Linked DNA regions of Homo sapiens: region 1 is linked to region 2. Evidence: fine-mapped expression QTL. A gene starts in region 2. The other region holds a variant in brackets. All regions are shown on one strand. Distances are between the middles of the regions. Region 1 overlaps FBXO10 (F-box protein 10). Region 2 holds the start of POLR1E (RNA polymerase I subunit E).

What was found. PIP is the estimated chance that this variant, and not a neighbour inherited with it, causes the effect.
Region 1: its variant is the best candidate, but not a certain one, in a credible set for the expression of POLR1E in monocytes (TOPMed, PIP 0.84).

What each region holds. Positions count from the first base shown.
Region 1 is chr9:37,513,197-37,516,106 of GRCh38, reverse strand. It overlaps FBXO10 (F-box protein 10), which reads left to right. Exons shown (of 11, transcript NM_012166.3): 10 at 22-203. Among named protein-coding and RNA genes, the nearest start is that of POLR1E, 29 kb to the right of the region's middle. RefSeq lists an enhancer at 208-709. The variant C/T (reference allele first, on the strand shown) is at 1,237.
Region 2 is chr9:37,484,393-37,487,302 of GRCh38, reverse strand. POLR1E (RNA polymerase I subunit E) reads right to left here and starts at 1,355. Exons shown (of 12, transcript NM_022490.4): 1 at 1,180-1,355; 2 at 497-600. The coding sequence starts at 1,255. RefSeq lists a silencer at 1,228-1,557 and an enhancer at 1,299-1,890.

The DNA of each region.
Region 1 (2,910 bases), 29 kb before region 2:
ATCTCTGGCTGCCTCTCCCAGGTAATAAAGAACCGGATCCACTCGTTCCGGGCCTACGGCATCGCCGTGCGGGGCCGTGCCAAGGCCCTGGTGCAGGAAAACATCATCTTCCAGGGCAAAACCAGTAAGACCATCTTTCAGCAGATCTCAAACAACCGAGAATGCATCATGCAAAACAACAAGTTCCTGGTCTTCAAGAAAAAGTGAGTGCTTGGGGTTGCCTGAACGAGTCCTCTAGAGCCACAGTAAGCTCCCTGAAGAAGCCAGGCCCACACCCAGGGATTGTGGCTGCCCGGGCTCCCTGCAACCCTGCCAGCTGTCGACTCCAGTCAGAAAAAGGCCTGTGCCTGGCTCTATGTCAGGCCCGGGCTGAGGACTCCCCAGGAGGGAACAAGCTTTTTAAGAGTCAGGGGTATGTGGTTTCAGATCTCAGCTCTGCAGGTTACTGGCTGTGTGACCTTGGGCAACTTACTTCACATCTTCGAGCCTTAGTAAAATCCATTTAATAAGATCACACTATCTGGCTGAATCTCTGAGGGGCTGTAAAAATGTTAGTTGATGCTGCTGCTGTCCTTTAGTCACTCTGCCTCAATGTATCACAATTGCCGCCACCCATCTTCCTCAAACCTGTCTGTCCTTTCACGTTCTCCATTTCAGCGACATCACCATCCACTCAGTGTTCTGACAACAAAACTTCTGCTGCCTTTTTCTCCCTAATCCGAAGATGTCCAGTCAGTCAGTCACCAGGTCTTGTTGATTCTGCTTCTAAAATGTTCCTTTTTCCAGCACCTCCTCTTCCCCAACTGCCCCCATCCTAATTCAGGTCTCAGCACCGCTCACCCTAACCTGTACCGCCTGTGTTACTGCAATGCACAGCTGTTCCAGTTGCTTCTGCTTGGGCTGTGTTCTGATTGGTCCGTGCTTTCGCTTTCACATTCTGGTTGTAAAATCATACTGATATTTGCTGTAGTTGGTATCACTCCTGCACCGCCAATGTCACCTGTCCCCCTGCAGCAGCCTCCTGCCAGTCTCCCTGCCCGTGGCCACCCCCTGCTCCACTCTGGAGGTTGTCCCATGCATCCTGCCAGGTTAATCTTTCTAAGTGAGAGCTCTGGTCAGTCACATCACATCCATGGTTTAAAACCTCTCATGGATCTTCATGTTCTGTTGTAATGATCTCCATACTTTTTGTATTACACACACTCTCGGGAAAAAATATTCTTTGAAGAAACCCCC[C/T]GATGTAGGTATACCTAATTATTTATTTATTTATTTAGAGACCAAGTCTCACTCTGTTGCCCAGGCTGCAGTGCAGTGGTGCGATCTTGGCTCACTGCAACCTCTTCCTCCCAGATTCAAGCGATCCTCCTGCCTCAGCCTCCTGAGCAGCTGGGATTACAGGCGCCCACCACCACTCCCGGCTGATTTTTGTGTTTTTAGTAGAGACAGTTTCGCCATGTTGACCAGGCTGGTCTCGAACTCCTGACCTCAGGTGATCCACCCGCCTTGGCCTCCCAAAGTATTGAGATTACAGGTGTGAGCCACCGCGCCTCACCGGTATACCTATTTATAACTTATATATGTGTATTCTAGCAGTATATTATTTACATTATAAACTATCCCCAAAATAGAAAATTTTAAAGTATACAGTTAAAAAAAACCAAAATTCTAGTATTTTCTTCCAATATCCCAGCAGATTATATTGTGGACTCCCTGGGATCCACCTCCTCCTTCCCTTTGGAGACCCCAGGGTACAGGATACAGCCCGGACTTTGCCAATGCCAGCTCTGGTATTGTCCGCTGTGTACCCTGAGGTCCTAATTGTCTTTTCCAGCCTCTCATTTCATCACTCCTTTTCAGTAGTGCTCCCCTGCTGCCAAACTCAAATACATACAGTCCTCCCAACATAGCTTAGGCCTTTTTATTCACATGCTAGTAGCCAACCTCTGATTCCGTCCACACCTTTCCAGTCCTTTCATTGTAACATCATTATCATAAAAATACATATAAGACAATGTGTTGCCTTAAGCAAATGGAGACTTAGTGTGTAAAGTTGGTTCCTTGTAACTCAAGCATCAGAAAACTCTGACCACAGCTTCACTATCATTTTATTTTCCCTGGCCCTCCATGCTCTCTACAAGAGTTTGGGTGACTGGAAACCCACCAACTTCTATCCCCCATAGATTTGCATTTTCCCAAATGTCATATAAAAGAAATCGTGGCCGGGTGCGGTGGCTCACGCCTGTAATCCCAGCACTTTGGGAGGCCGAGGTGGGTGGATCACCTGAGGTCGGGATTTCGAGACCAGCCTGGCCAACATGGTGAAACCCCATCTCTACTAAAAATACAAAAATTAGCTGGGCATCATGGCACGCAACTGTAGTCCCAGCTACTCGGGAGGCTGAGCCAGGAGGATCACTCGAACCTGGGAGGAAGAGGTTGCAGTGAACCCAGATCACACTACTGCACTCCAGCCTGGGTAACAGAGCAAGACTCCGTCTCGGAAAAAATATATATATATATTAAAAAATAAAAGTAAAAACAAAAAAAACCCAGAAATCCTGCAGTATGTAGTCTTTTGAGTCTGGCTTCTTTCACTTAGCCTAACATGCTGGAGATTCATTCATGGTGTTGCATGTAAGGCGTTCATTCCTTTCAATTGCTGAGTAGTCTTCCCCTGTATGGGTGTACTGCACAGTTTATTCACTCATCAGCTGAAGCGTATTTAGGTAGTTTCTAGTTTTTGGTGATTATGAATAAAGCTTCTATAAACATTTGTGGTCATAGAGCTGAAAAGAAATGAAAGAGGAAAAGCTGGCACCGTGGCACACACCTATAATCCCAGCTACTTGGGAAGCTGAGGCAGGAGGATCACTTGAGCCCAGGAGTTTAAGACCGGCTTGGGCAACATAA
Region 2 (2,910 bases):
TGCCCTGTACTCTTCCCCACGTGGCCTCAGAGCTTTGTGTAAAAGTGTCCCTCACAGCCAGTTCTCATCTCTCTAGAGCAGAGGTTCTCAATCCAGGGAAATCCACTCTGGTGCTACTGGCATCTAATGAGTAGAGACTAGGGATGCTGCCCCCACAGCAAAGAATTATTGGCCCAAAAAGTCAATAGTCCTGAGGTTGAGAAACCCTGCTCTAGAGTATGAACTCTGAGTGGGGCTAGGCCTGATTTGGCTGTTTTCCTAGAAGCTTGCAGCACAGGGATGCAGAGGGGCAGGTTCCATAAATGCTTGTTGAAAGAACAAATGAATGAAAGATGGAGCCTGTCCCCACATCCCAGGCTGCTGGGCATCAGAGTTCTTCAAAGCTCCATTTGCTACTACTCCCCTTTTTCTCCCCTCACTCCCTCCCACATCCACCCACTCCCAGGGGCCTTCTGAGCCCTGCAGAGTGGAGACAGCTGGCAACTGCTTCACTTACCAGGATCCGTTGATTCCTCTTCCTGGGGTTGGTGGAATCTTTGTTCTCATACAAGGTAAAGCGCATGTTGCCTGGACTCTGTAGCTTCCCGTTGGAGAACTGGACTGTAAGAGTGCAGCCCAAGAATGAGATGAGAGCAGAAGGCCACACAATGTACCACACAATGTACGGTGGGACTAGACTGTCACTGGGAGGGAGTGTCAGAATGGGGATGGCAAGGAAGCTCGGGTCCTGACCCAAAGGGAACTGGAGGAGATCCGGGGCCAGCTGAGAAGAGGAGGTAGGGAGGTGGGAGAACCCTGGGGAGGGGCTGTGACAGGAGGGAATGTCTCGCGGAAGGAGGCTGACAGCAGAGGCCTGGTACATACCTAAAGTGACAGAAGGAACCCCTGCCCAGTGAAGAGAGGGAAATGGGGGAGGCGGGAGACCTGGTGGGTGAGGGGGTCAGCAGGGTCCTGGACACAGCTCTGGGGAGCGGGTGAGTGGGATGTCCCAATCTGGCTGGGAGGTAGTGACAGAAAGACGGACAGGGGAGCCCTGACAGAGCCCAGGGGAGTGGTGGAGACTAGAGGGGTCCCGGCCCCGCTGGGGAGAAGCCCAACGGAGGGCGAGAGGACAGCTGAGGTACCGAGACGGAAGGGGAGAGGGTTAGAGGAGCACTGCTCCAGCTCCGCAGTCTTTACCCAGTACAGCTCTCTGGCTCCCGTCGGGCGCCCCACAATACTGCCACCTCGCACTCGGCAACACCTCCGCCGCCATCTCGCCTGTCTGTCCGCCAAGCACAGGAGTTAAGACAGCAGCAGCCACAAGCGCACTTTTAAACACGCGGGAGCCCAGGCCGCGCTGCGGGCCGGAAAAGGCGTGGCCCCGCCGGGCACCGCCCACAGCGCGCGAGCCGCGTGTCCCCGCCCCCCGCGTAGAGAGGCGTGGTCTCCGCCCACAAGGTGCCACACACCCGCTTGACTGGCCGAGGCGCAGCACCTGATTGGCTCAGCGCTCGCGTGCACTCTGGGTTTTGTAGGTCCAGAGCCCGAGGCGCCAAAGGCTTCAGCCTAAGCTTGCTATGAGCCTTCTTCCGGCTCAGCACCTTCTAAAGAGAGTGTCGTCTCTCTCTCCTACCGTGACAAACTCATCTTCCCAAGACCTGAAGGACCAAGTTCAAATTTAGAATTCTCTGACAGGAACTGCTTGAGCCCCAACTAAATGTGGCCGCTGGCGAATAGCCGCCCCTCTCTAGGGCTTCCCACCCACCCACGTGGACATCCAGCTCTAGGTACAAACTTTGTCCACAGTCCGACAAACAGCTCCCCGCCATGGGCTGTGGCGTGCACACCTGTGGCCCAATCAACACTGAGGTGATGGAACAGAAGCCCAGCCAACCCCGGAGCCTTTGGGCAGGAGATTCTGGACTGGAATAGAAGAGGGAGTCCGAGCTGATGGACATGTCCCTTTTTCACTGCGGATTCAACCCTTCTTCTGCACGGGGAGTTTTCAGAGCAGAAAGAAGGCGAAAGCAGGGCCTTTAAGCATGGACGCTGGCCGAGGCCCCCTTTGCCCAAAGATGCGTACTATTGAAGGGCAAGAACTCCGGTTGACTCCCCTCTGTCTTCCAAATCACCTTCTTTCAAGACTCTTTTCCTTCCACACACCCTCAACACCCGCCTCCAACACCCAGGATCCTAGGAATAACCCTAAAGCCTGCATGCCCCTTTGCCTGAGCACTTGTCACGCTTTTCTAATTACCCAATCTCAAACGTAAAGAAACACTGCAAGAAATGTTTTTGCCCTGAACCATTTAGAGTAAGTTGTCAACCTGATACCCTTTCAACCCTGAAGACTATAGTATTTCCTACAGACATTCCCTAAATAACAACACAGCCATCAGAATCAGCAAATTGCCGGGCGCAGTGGTTCACGCCTGCAATCCCAGCACTTTGGGAGGGAGAGGCAGTTCTATCCCTTGATTCCAGGAGTTTGAGACCAGGCTGGGCAACATAACAAGACCCTGTCTCTACAAAAAATAATATTAGCCATGTGTGGTGGCGCACGCGTGTCGTCCCAGCTACTCGGGAGGCTGAGGTGGGAGGATTGCTTGAGCCTAGGAGGCAGAGGCTGCAGTGAGCTGTGATGGTGCCACTGCACTCTAGCCTGGGCGACAAAAAAAAAAAAAAAAATTAAACAGAAAAGAATCAGGAAATTAGCACTGGTACATTACCACCATGTAATCCTCACATCCCATTTAAGTTCACCCATTGTCCCAACGTTTGTTGTTAGTTTGTTTTTTGAGACAGGGTCTCACTCTGTCACCCAGGCTGGAGTGCAGTGTTGCAACCAGGGCTCACTGCAGCCTTGACCTTCCAGGCTCAAGTGATCCTCTCACCACAACCTGGGAATACAAGTGTGTGCCACCACAC